3 linked regions of the Homo sapiens genome follow. The protein of the gene in region 2 binds, or shares a complex with, the protein of the main gene of each other region. Each region holds a gene or a part of one and is shown on either strand. Other genes may lie near its edges. The genes, in order: GID4, ARMC8 and GID8.

Evidence for each region.
Region 1: the proteins of ARMC8 (region 2) and GID4 are in contact, whole or in part, in a cryo-EM structure (PDB 7NSC), measured with the Homo sapiens proteins. Residues at the interface, in NP_001350870.1 of Homo sapiens: Glu309, Pro310, Asp311, Val312, Asn371, Glu373, Arg406, His409, Arg413, Ser414, Val415, Gln416, Arg419, Thr420, Gln423, Asp424, Val444, Ser448, Cys451, Asn452, Leu455, Phe457, Ala483, Val486, Asn487, Trp490, Met493, Asn494, Phe497, Gln498; in NP_076957.3 of Homo sapiens: Leu104, Ile105, Pro106, Pro107, Pro108, Pro109, Ile110, Gln114, Pro115, Gly116, Val117, Ala118, Thr119, Gly125, Gln146, His147, Tyr154, Cys156, Tyr158, Phe174, Glu176, Phe239, Val241, Pro242, His244, His292, Ser293, Ala294, Pro295, Ile296.
Region 3: the proteins of ARMC8 (region 2) and GID8 are in contact, whole or in part, in a cryo-EM structure (PDB 7NSC), measured with the Homo sapiens proteins. Residues at the interface, in NP_001350870.1 of Homo sapiens: Asn45, Val47, Ile48, Gly49, Asn50, Val85, Ser89, Met92, Arg127, Arg130, Arg161, Tyr162, Tyr166, Leu200, Ser201, Tyr202; in NP_060366.1 of Homo sapiens: Ile83, Ala84, Asn87, His90, Pro91, Glu92, Leu94, Asp95, Thr96, Tyr101, Tyr183, Glu184, Asn185.

Annotation. Positions count from the first base shown.
Region 1 is NC_000017.11:18,056,280-18,060,024, forward strand, and holds part of GID4 (glucose-induced degradation protein 4 homolog), read left to right. Parts: intron 1-423; coding exon of another isoform or gene 424-747; exon of another isoform or gene 748-1,192; intron 1,193-2,588; coding exon 2,589-2,690; intron 2,691-2,996; coding exon of another isoform or gene 2,997-3,020; exon of another isoform or gene 3,021-3,469; intron 3,470-3,745.
Region 2 is NC_000003.12:138,185,522-138,189,266, reverse strand, and holds the start of ARMC8 (armadillo repeat-containing protein 8), read right to left. Parts: upstream 1,967-3,745; 5' UTR 1,713-1,966; coding exon 1,668-1,712; intron 867-1,667; exon of another isoform or gene 740-866; coding exon of another isoform or gene 737-739; intron 1-736. UniProt on the Homo sapiens protein: Component of the CTLH E3 ubiquitin-protein ligase complex that selectively accepts ubiquitin from UBE2H and mediates ubiquitination and subsequent proteasomal degradation of the transcription factor HBP1.
Region 3 is NC_000020.11:62,936,055-62,939,799, forward strand, and holds the start of GID8 (glucose-induced degradation protein 8 homolog), read left to right. Parts: upstream 1-2,092; 5' UTR 2,093-2,199; exon of another isoform or gene 2,200-2,770; intron 2,771-3,745. UniProt on the Homo sapiens protein: Core component of the CTLH E3 ubiquitin-protein ligase complex that selectively accepts ubiquitin from UBE2H and mediates ubiquitination and subsequent proteasomal degradation of the transcription factor HBP1.

The sequences.
Region 1 (3,745 bases), on a different chromosome or scaffold from region 2:
AAATGGACACTAAAAACTAGACAGTCATTTGTGTCTCTCTGTGATACAAGAGAATGCACAAGACCTGAGTATCCAGAAGGTTGGGGGAGCCCAAGTGGTGTATGAAGGTGCTGGCCACCAGCAGGTGGAGTTGGAAGGGCTCCCTAGTACCATCTGCGCCCACCCCTGCCCAGGGCTAGGCTCTTCCTGCATGGCTTGCTGCCTCACGAGATGGCTCCTTCCTCTCCTGTACAGTCCCAGAGTAGAAGGTTCTTCCTTGTAGTAAACCACAGCCTCTCTCCCATTCAACTCTATTTTCCATTTCATATTGGTCCTGCAAAAAGCAAAGTCTTTGAGGCCCAGTGACACTCAGTTTTAGGCTAGGTTGACTACAAATTAAATACTTGGAAAGCAACTCTTAATTTTCCCATTGACTTCCGTTAGAACATTGGAAGATATCTGGATCTGCAGACTCTGCTAGACTGGACTGAAACATTTTGGGTGAGAGAGGAACTAAGAAGGCCACCCTTGGTACTGGCATGTGAGGTGTGGTTGAGCCAGGGAGCTGAACCTATGGAGTGCTTCCTCCTCCAACAGTTTGTGGCTGCTTTTGTAGTACTCAGCATTTCCCCTAACTTTCACCACTCATGGAGGACTCCCAGGTTCCCACGTGGGACTCCTGGAGCTCTGTACTGCACCTGGGTTTGTCTGAGATTTACAATGTCTAATACACTTCACCTAGGCTGTCATTTTTTCATTATAAACTAGAATCAGAGATATTGTATTGCATCCTCAGATTTTCCTGAGTGGTATTTAAGTTGCTATTATAGTGGTACTATAAAGTCAGGATTCCATATATTCAGTCTACATAGGATAAAAATGTCTATGTGACACCAGGTGTGGTGGCTCATGCCTGTAATGCCAGCACTTTGGGAGGCCGAGGCAGATGGATCACCTGAGGTCAGGAGTTCGAGAACAGCCTGGCCAACATGGTGAAACCCCATCTCTACCAAAAATATAAAAATTAACCAGGCATGGTGGCACACACCTGTAATCCCAGCTATTCGGGAGGCTGAGGCAGGAGAGTCACTTGAACCTGGGAGGCGGAGATTGCAGTGAGCTGAGATCATGCCATTGCACTCCAGCCTGAGCAACAAGAGCAAGACTTTGTCTCAAAAAATAATAATAAAATAAATCTATGTGACAAAATCTATGACTTAATATCTCTGTGTCTTGATTTTTTATTTAAGATGTTTTCTTATCAAATTAACACATGCTTGTTTAAAAATATTTGAAAAAATAGAAAAGCTGGAGGAAAAGGAGTCATCTATGGCAACACCTAAAACTAAAATAGCTGTTAACCTCTTCCTGAATCTCTTTTGGGTATACAGTGTATACTTGTTTTTTGTCTTTTTTTTAAAAAATGGGATCATAAAATACAGTTTTGTAACCTATTCCTAATCTCCTGTTGTAAATGTAGTCAGCCCTCCATATATGTGGGTTCTGTATCTGTGGATTCAACCAGCCACAGTTTGAAAATATTTGAAAAAAAAAATTGCATCTGTACTGATGATGTATAGATTTTTTTTTTTTGAGACAGAGTCTCGCTCTGTTGCCCATGCTGGAGTGCAGTGGCACGATCTCGGCTCATTGCAAGCTCCGCCTCCCGGGTTCACGCCATTCTCCTCCTCAGCCTCCCAAGTAGCTGGGACTACAGGCGACCACCACCACACCCAACTAATTTTTTCATATTTTTAGTAGAGACAGGGTTTCATCGTGTTAGCCAGGATGGTCTTGATCTCCTGACCTTGTGATCTGCCTGCCTTGGCCTCCCCAAGTGCTGGGATTACAGGCGTGAGCCCCCACACCCAGTGGATGTATAGATTTTTTGTTCTTGATATTTTTCCCTGAACGATACAGTATAACCACTATTCACTTAGTATTTACATTGAATTAGGTATTATAAGCAATCTAGAGATGCTATAAAGTATAGGGGAGGATGTGTGTAGGTTATCTGCAAATACTGCACTGTTTTATATCTGGGACTTAAGCATCTGCAGATTTTGGTATTCATGGGGGTCCTGGAACCAATCTCTCGCAGATATCGAAGGACAAGGCTATCATGTGTTTCTAGTGTCTGCTTAGCTAGCTGGCCCAAGCCCCTAGATCATGCAGAGACACAAGCTTCACAAAGCCCTCTTCTCTGAGACTGGGCAGGCTGTTTCTAAGCTGTTTTGCATGGCTCTTTTTGCTACTTCGGATTTACTTGCAGAGGTCTTCTCATTAATTTTTCTTAGCTTTCGTCTGTTTATTTTGTCTGTCTGTTCACCATTCCCATCCTTTGGCCTTTTCCTCAGCCATGTTAACAAGGCAGGTGTAGGGCAGTGGGGCCCCAGCTGGAGTCCAGGTATCTGCCCCAGGGTTGAGTCTGCATTCAATGGGGTGACCATAGGGCCCCATCTGTTACTTGGTCTTAGCTGCCCTTTTGGGAGCCACGTCCCTAGCTGTCATGCCTTGGGAAGGTGAGTTTACCTGGGCACATAAGCATAGTTCTGAGAGCAGCCTCTCCTTCTCTCAGTCAATCGGCACACTCTCTTTTCTGCTTTCAGGGCAAGTTTCTGGCTTTTTATCAGTATGCAAAATCATTTAACTCAGATGACTTTGATTATGAAGAGCTGAAGAATGGAGACTACGTCTTCATGAGGTGGAAGGTAAGTTCCCACCAGGTGGCCCTCCAGACTCCCAGCAAGCCAGGCCCTGTATCGCACCTACATATTCACTCTAACCAAGGGCTCCCCATGTCCAGTGCTCGTCACAGCTGGTTGTCATGGCAAAGTCTTCATGGCAGGGTCTTTGCACGCCTATAAAAAGTGGGCCCAGCTCCAGGGCACGCACTGGTTAACTGCCGATGTCCCAGACAGCTCCTCCTCGCTGTGCTTTTGGTGGGTAGCAAGTGGATTTGGGCCTAGGTGGCTGCCTCTAACATTGTCTTCTCCCTTTCCTTTCTCCCACCCAAGAATCTTGTTGAACCCCCAAGTTGAATCACTCCAAGTGTTCTGTGGATTCAAGGCAGAGCCAAACTTGCTTTGAACTTAGTCATCAGTTGTACCCAGATCCCTCTACAGGCTTAAACACCATCCGTGGGCCAGGTGCCCTCCACCACATCCTTTTCCCAGAGCTCAGGAAAGTCTCACCTCCTCTACTTCCCTCCAGCTCAGGAAATGAGGGACCGGGAATGGAACACGGGTTTTTGACTCAGCAGACCTCAGAGAGCCCCACCTGACTGACTTGATGGATTGGCTTTTAGCTGCGAGGTCATTTGTGCTCCCTGCTTTGATAACGTGATATTTACAGCCCCAGAATAGCAAAATCAGGAAGCCAGTTTGTTAAATAACTTTGAGAACATACCAACCCCTAGTCCCCAGTCTGCAGGGAAAAAGTCGTTTTATCTTGAAATCTTGTCAGCTTTCATAAAGATGAATCATATTGAGTTGCCTTTCCTGGTCTTTATTTTGCATAGCTAACCACTTTAGGAAGTGGGGATCGGCCGGGCGTGGTGGATCACACCTGTAATCCCAGCACTTTGGGAGGCTGAAGCAGGCAGATCATGAGGTCAAGAGATTGAGACCATCCTGGCCAACATGGTGAAAACCCATCTCTACTAAAAAATACAAAAAATTAGCCGGGCATGTTGGCATGCCCCTGTAGTCGCAGCTACTCAGGAGGCTAAGGCAGGGGAATCACTTGAACCTGGGAGATGGAAGTT
Region 2 (3,745 bases):
GACTAGGGCTAAAGGCAAATCCTAAATAGAAGTATTAATAGAAAATACTCTTCAAGAAGTTTTTGAATAAAATAAGCAGAAAATATTATTTACCAAGGAAGTGAAACAAATGAAAACTTTCAATCATATGCATTATACAAGTTGACAACATCCAAAAAGTAAACTTCAGGTGAACTGAAGGATAAATGAAATCTAAATGAATAATTAAAGGAGAACTGAGAACAGCCAAGACACATACTATTTTTTTTTAACATAATGAGGTAAAAGTCATTGGCCTGCACTCCCACAGAATATTCCTGGGTATTACAGTCAGTGATGGAGTAACAGGCTAATCTGATCTAATACTTAGGTAAACAGTATTTCCTTAGTTGCAGTTTAAAAATAAGAAAAAATGACTGCTAAAATGGATCAGGGGAAAAATCTGTTGACAGCCTCACAAAATTATTATTGTATTGACAACTTAAGCCTTTTCAAGGTTGAGGTCTGCCACACTGCTCTAACCCTGAATCATAAGCAAATGTCCTAGGTGTTTTCAGATAGGTGAGTTTGTTTGTGGGACAAGTCAGAGAAGAGAAAAGAAACCGGTTGTAGTTACAAGACTCTAGGAACCCGACAAGTCATTTATAATCCAACTACCCTCTCAGTATCAGACTGGCTTCCACAAGTCTAAAAGATGGTCAATCAGTATTTGCCTGCTTGTTTCCAACAATAGCAAATGAACCATTGGTAAACTGACCATTCTCAGAGTCGGACAGCTCGAATTTGTTGCAAAATCCTTCGAAGTTATCTCCCAGTAACTTTCATTCCTGGTCCTGGTTCAAGAGCAACATAGTGAAAGGTGAAAGTCGTCTTTTTCTTTAAAAAAACTTTTTTTAAAAAAAAAAAAAACAGGTTTTACTTCCTGGCATGTCAATACGTTCCCTTCTTTCAACAATGGGGAAATAAATCTCACCCCCTTTTCCCCCCTTCAATGTTTGACTCCCCTTAAAGAAAAACGGAATACCAGGCACAGGGAACATAGAGTTCCTCTGACTCAGAGCCGCGACCTCTGAGCAGAGCGGAGGAAAGGGGCTTAAAAAACCACACACACTAGGAAGAGTTGCAGCTGATACGAATCACCATTGCCAAAAAGCAAACTGCTTCAGCCGGTGCCCAGGTGCTGGGACGCGATAGAAGCCGCACAGACTTGGCCTGGCAGCTCTGAGGAAATGGGGGCCAAGGAGCCTGCACCTCTTCTTGCCAAAGCCCGGGAGAGCTGAGTGGGCGCTCGTTCTCAGGCCGGCTGCAAGCCCGGCGCTTCACAAGGCAGAGCGTTCGGCCCCCGGGAAGCGGCATCGCTAAAAGGAAGGCTCAGTGAAACGCTTGGCAAAGTCCAAGCCGCGCCGCCCAGCCAGTTGTCTATAAGCCCAGCCACCCCGCCTGCCAGACGCCATCCTGGGAACCCGCACCGGCGGGAGCTCCCGGAGTTGGAAACGTCTTTGGCTCGGCCGCGGTCCCCTCTGCCCGTCTATCCCGCCTCTCCACCCTCGCTCACTCCCTGGCCCGAGACTGAGCCGGGGTCCACCCCAGGGGGTGGTGCCCAGGAGGCACACCACGCTTGGGGGAATGGTGGAGACCGGGATGAGGCTTCCTGGAGGGCGGGCGGGCGGCCGCGGCGGGTCACTCACCGAAAGGACGCTCATGCGGATTGGGGTCTCCAACAAGCACGCCATCTTGAGCCTTCCCACCCGGCTGCTGCAGGCGCCGGCGCGGGGGCCGGCACTTTCGACAGCCAACTATTGGCCAACGCTAGGCACCGCTCCCTAAAGGCAGCCAGATAGACGAGAACTGGCCACGCTCTGGACACCGCTCAAGTACCGGAAAGGCCCGCAGAAAGAAGGGCAAAAGGGAATGGCGTCAGGGGCTGTCCTACGAATCGTTCTCTCAGAAACAGCAGCTACTCTGAGCCTGGGTTAGAGGTGGAAGCGGGCAGCGGTTTCCGCATGCGCAAAGAAGATCTGCCGGCCCCACCTGCCGCTCGCGGTGGGCGGGGCCCCAGAGGCGGAGTCTCGCCCTGACGCTACGAGTTTTACGGACTGATAAATTGCAGTTTATGGATTCCAGTATTCATATTTGGAAAAAGTAGTACGTGGAGCCACATACATAGTTTGAAGTTCACTTTCATATTCATTCTCTCTCTCTGCACCAAACTCCCGGCGTCGTTATCTCCATTTTATAGGTGGGGAAATTGCGATCCCAGAACCTTTGCCAACCGTAAGAGTGATTGTTTCACGATCCGATACAGATACGTGACTTGCCTTAGCGTTGTGTGCCGGCCCCGTTTATTCTGGTGTAGTGTTAAGAATAGCCAGAATGCTTGGGTTTCTTCCTAGCTACTTGATTTATCAGCTGCTTTACCCTGGGCAAGTTATCTAACCTTCTGTTTGAGTTTCCTCATCTATAAAATAAAGGTTAATGAGGATAGAGGAGTCAACAAACGTGAAGCTCTCAGAAAAAACCTAGAACATAGAAAGCGTTATACAATATGTGTTAACATTTCTCCAGCTTCTGAGTTAAGTGGGGAAAATGGGGGCAAATATCTAAATATTTCGCACTAAAACACTCTCATAACCGAAGCTAAATAAAAGTATGCTTTCAATTATACTTGATTAATTCAGCTGTCCTACTACTTTGTGTGTGTGTGTGTGTGTGTGTGCAACACTGCCCTTGACTTGGTTGGATAAGTTTCACCTTCGTACTGCTTGCAACCAGTAAGGTTTTCACAGTATGGTTGCAATTGGCCTGTTAACATTACTTGTATTCCTTCCATTTCTATAGCCACACCCTAATTCAGGCTCTTGTAACCTCTCCCCTGGACTACAGCAATAGCCTTCCAACTGGTCTTGTAGCTGGTAGCCTCTCCCGCACTCTGCTCCTCACTGTTTTCCTGTCTTCCTCCTGTACTTGGTTTCCAAATTTAGTGTAGCATTTACCACCCCTGCTTATGGGTCTGTGTTCCTTAACAAACTGTTGAATTCCTGGAAGGCAGGAATTTTATTTTAGGTAGTCCTTCTGCTATAATACTATTTCTGAAACTTGGGTAATCTGTACACCACCTACACAATCTTTGCCAATCTGCACCTAGGTATTATTATTCATTCAATATTTTTATTTAAAGCCAATTTCAACTCATTAAAAATTTTTGGCTTTATCCTAAACCATAATACTCTGTGAAATCAAGTTTGTTGTGCTCCTTATTTTTATTCTAGTACACATTAACTACAAAAAGTTTAAATGTCCATCCATGGACCACCTAAAATCACATCATGTACTGCATACTGCAATGGGGCAGAACATAACCCTAATACATAGTATATAGAGTCATTATAACTGTATTTGATCCACACTCCATCCATTAGCTCAAGCAATACATCCTCCAGGAATTGTCTCCCCCAGGCATGGGTTAGATACCCTTTCCCCCATGCCTTCATACTTCACTTTAATTGTAGGGTGGTTTTGTTGTTGTTAATTGTTTCCGTGTTTGTCTCACTATACACTTCAAGACAGGCACTGGGAGTTTTATCTTCTAGGTTGTCTATCTCAGTGCCTAGCACAGTCACTTAGTAAATGTTTGTTGTACGAATTTTTGGCTTAGTTTGAGCCTGGGACGAAGATTTGGGTGCATTTTGTTTATTTAGTAAGTGCTTTCAGGGAACAAAATTGATAGGTCAGGGAGAGTGAAAAAAGAAAGAATAAATATTCAAGA
Region 3 (3,745 bases), on a different chromosome or scaffold from region 2:
GGAATGTCGCCTTAAGGCGCTAGCACTCAAGCTTTCTGCTCGTGCATCCCCTTGCACACTTTCTCCTTGACGTTCAGGCTGGGCATGGTGGCTGACGCCTGTAAACCCAGCACTCCCAGAGGCCGAGGCGGGAGGATGGCTTGAGCCCAGGAGATCGAGACCAGCCTGGGCAAGAAGGCAAGACCCCGTCTCTAAAAAACTTTAAAAAATAAAAATAGGCCGGATGCGGTGGCTCATGACTGTAATCCGAGCACCTTGGGAGGCCGAGGTGGGTGATCATTTGAGGTCAGGAGTTCGAGACCAGCCTAGCCAACATGGTGAAACCCCACCCGTACTAAAAATACAAAATAAGTAGCCGGGCGTGGTGGCGGGTGCCTGTAGTTCCAGCTACTCGGGAGGCTGAGGCAGGAGAATCACTTGAACCCAGGAGGCGGAGGTTGCAGTGAGTCGAGATCATGACAGTGCACTCCAGCCTGGGCAACAAAGTGAGACTCCTTCTCAAAAAATAGAATAAAATAAAATCAAAATAGGCCGGGAGCGGTGGCTCACGCCTGTAATCCCAGCACTTTGGGAGTCCGAGGCGGGCGGATCACGAGGTCAAGACACTGAGACCAGCCTGACCAACAAGGGGAAACCCCGTCTCTACTAAAAATACAAAAATTAGCTGGGCGTGGTGGTGCGCCCCTGTGGTCCCAGCTACTCGGGAGGCTGAGGCAGGAGAATCGCTTGAACCCGGGAGGCGGAGGTTGCAGTGAGCCGAGATGGCGCCACTGCGCTCCAGCCTGGGCGAGAGTGAGACTTCGTCTCAAAATAAATAACTAAATAAAGACCAATAACTGTTTCCCATAGGGTTATGTAGTTGCAAATGAAAAAATTACTGGCATGTACTGCCTCTGCATATGAAGCATAATTTTGTCAAGACCTTATACCTGCAGATTTAGCTCTTTCGATTAACGGAAAATGTCCAAAATCAGTCTCCTCCAACCTATTTGCCGAACTGGACTTACTGTCGCTGAGTAGACCGACCGACATAGCTTACACGTTGTTCAGCTCGCTTGTAAGCAAACACACGAAACCACCTCACCCCTGACTTCAGAAAGAAGCCGTCCCGTGAATTCCTCACAGATGAAATCAGGAGCTGCCCCTCAAGGACTCTATTTCTTCCTTCGGCTCTATCAAATATTTTAAGGTACTTCCCAGCAACGGAAACATGGGACCCTGCAATGACAGACTTCGCATTCCTCCTGAGCGGACAGGCAATAAGCAAGTAAACGCGCAAATACCCAAGTGCGGCCTCAACCCGCGCTCCTGCCGGGAGGGTCTCCAGTCACCGAGTAACCCCGGCCCTGCCCCGCGCCGCCGCCGGGACTCCGCCCCGCAAGCAAGTGGGGTCTCCTTTGTCCCGCGCGCCCTGGCCGCGTCCCGCCCTTCGGCGTAGCCCATGGGAGGCGCCCTGAGGGCAGGGCCCTTCTGATTCCCCACCTGGCCTCGAGTGAGGACGCGCTCAACAACATCTCGAGTAAAGCGGGGGAACTCGCTTCAACGCGCAGACAGCACAGCTCTCGCCCAGCCCGGTCTCGGGTCAGCCGTCTCTCCCTGGACCTCAGGGACACTAGCCCTGGAAGGCCGCCGGTCGGGAGGGGACTCCCTCCCCGTCTGAGGGGCGGCCGCGGACACCCGGCGCCTTTCCCCCGCCCCACCCCGTGCGGCCTCACGCAAACGACAGGAAAAAAGCTGGGACCTTCGCCTCCGACTCAGTGTAGACGTCGCCATCCCGGTTCCAGATTTCCGCGCTCCAACGCCTCCGCAGCAGCCATCTTGCCAGAGGGCCGACGCCTTTTGACTCTGGCGCCAACCCGTAGTGCGTGGTCGCCGCGAGGGGAGTTCTGCGCAAGTACGGAAGCTGAGGTTCCGCGCTTCCGGGAGGCCGTCCGCCCCGCCCCCTCGCGGGGGCGCTTCATTGGTCATCGGCTCGCGCTCTCGCGCTCTCTTGCTGTCGCGAGAGGTGCTGAGGGGCGGCCTCCGGTGCGCCTGCCCTCCCGCTCCCCGCCCCCGCCCCCGCCCCCGCCTCCGCCGCGGCCCCCACCTCTGCCTCCTTCTACTCGGGCGCCCCGGCGGCCGCCACCTCTCCCCAGCCCAGGAGAGGCTGCGGAGCCGCAGCCGCCCAGACCGCGCAGCGCGGGAGGCAGGTTCCGCACGGTAAGATGGCGGCGGCGGGCCCGGGCGGCCGGGCCGAGCGTCTCCCGGGGCCGGGCCGGGCGGGCAGGCGGGATGTGGCCGGGGTGCGCGCCGCCCCCGCTCTGGGGGCCTTGGAAGCGCCGGCGCTGGCAGGTGCGGAATTGGGGCGCGCAGTGAGTCCAGGCCCGGACGGCCGCCCCGCGCCGGTGCCCAGGGGGCAGTCAGGGCTCAGCCTCCAGGCGCGCGGCCTCAGGCGCTGGTGTTCTGGGGCGGTCCCGGCCAGCCTGAGGGGCGGCGGTAGCTGTCTCTGTGGAGGAGCGACGTCCGTAACGAAGTCTTTTTAATAAAATCTGCTGCTTTAAAGCAGAAACCGAGCGGGTGAGGATGTAAAGTGTGGCATGGAAAGTAGGAGTCTTCAGCACACGGGTGTTTTCTTCTGCTGAATCTTTTTATGCTGGAGTTTGAGACTACCGAGTTCTTCCTGCTAACAGGACTGGCCAGTTCTACAAAGTTGTTGCTTTTCATGGGCGCACGTAACTGCCCGGAGTGGAAGCGCTGTGAGTGCCGATCACCGAATGGGCCGAGAGAAAAGGTGCCTTTTCCTAGGGAGCTCTTAACGTTGGTCCTAGGGCCGGGCGCGGTGGCGGAGGTCGAAGTGGGCGGATCACTTGAGCCCGCGAGTTCGAGACCAGCCGTGGCAACAGCGAGACTCCCTTCTCTGCTAAAAATAAAAAAATTAGCCAGGCAGAGTGGTGCGCTCCTGTTGTCCCAGTTACTCTGGAGGCTGAGGTGGGAGGATCGCTTGAGCCCAGGAGGTCGAGGCTGCGGTGAGCCATGATCGCGCCACTGCCCTCCAGCCTGGGCGACAGAGCGAGGCTCTGTCTCAAAAAAAAAAGAAAAAGAAAATGAGTCCTTAAGTTACCATTAATTGTCGTGAATAAAAAGTTGGTCTCAGTGAGTTTTGCAGTTGACAACGAAAGATGGGTGTTCGTGTGTGACAGCGACTCCTGGTTTCTCCTCCACTTTACCTGCCGCTCCACATCAAGTTTTCTTCTGCTGGTGCCACTTTCTCTGCTTTACCTTCAAGGTTGGCATCCTCCAAGTAATGGCGATTCTCATTCCCTATCTACGCTCTTCCTATGGTCTTTGCTGAATTCTTGGCTTTAAATATCCCTGTGCCCCAGCACCGCCCCCCCCGCCCCTTATTTCACTAATTCATGTTTTCAGCTCTGAGCTCAGGATCTGTAATTCAGACACCTGCTTGATTTCTCCAGACGCATGTCTAATAGTCACGTCAAACTTGCCCTGCTTCTCAAACCTGTTCTTCTTCCAGTCCTTCCTCCTTATTTGTGGCCCCATCTTGCAGGGCCTCTCATGCTTGAAACCTGTGACCATCTTCTATTCTTCCCTCTCTTTTGTCCGGTAATCTGTCTAGCAGCAGCCATTGACTCTGGCCAAAGCATCTTGATCTCACCTTGCTCTCCATCTCTTCTGCCGATGTTCTCTCTCGCTTGGGTGTCTCCCTAAGGGACTGGCTGCTCAGATCTCACCACCCTGCATTCATCCC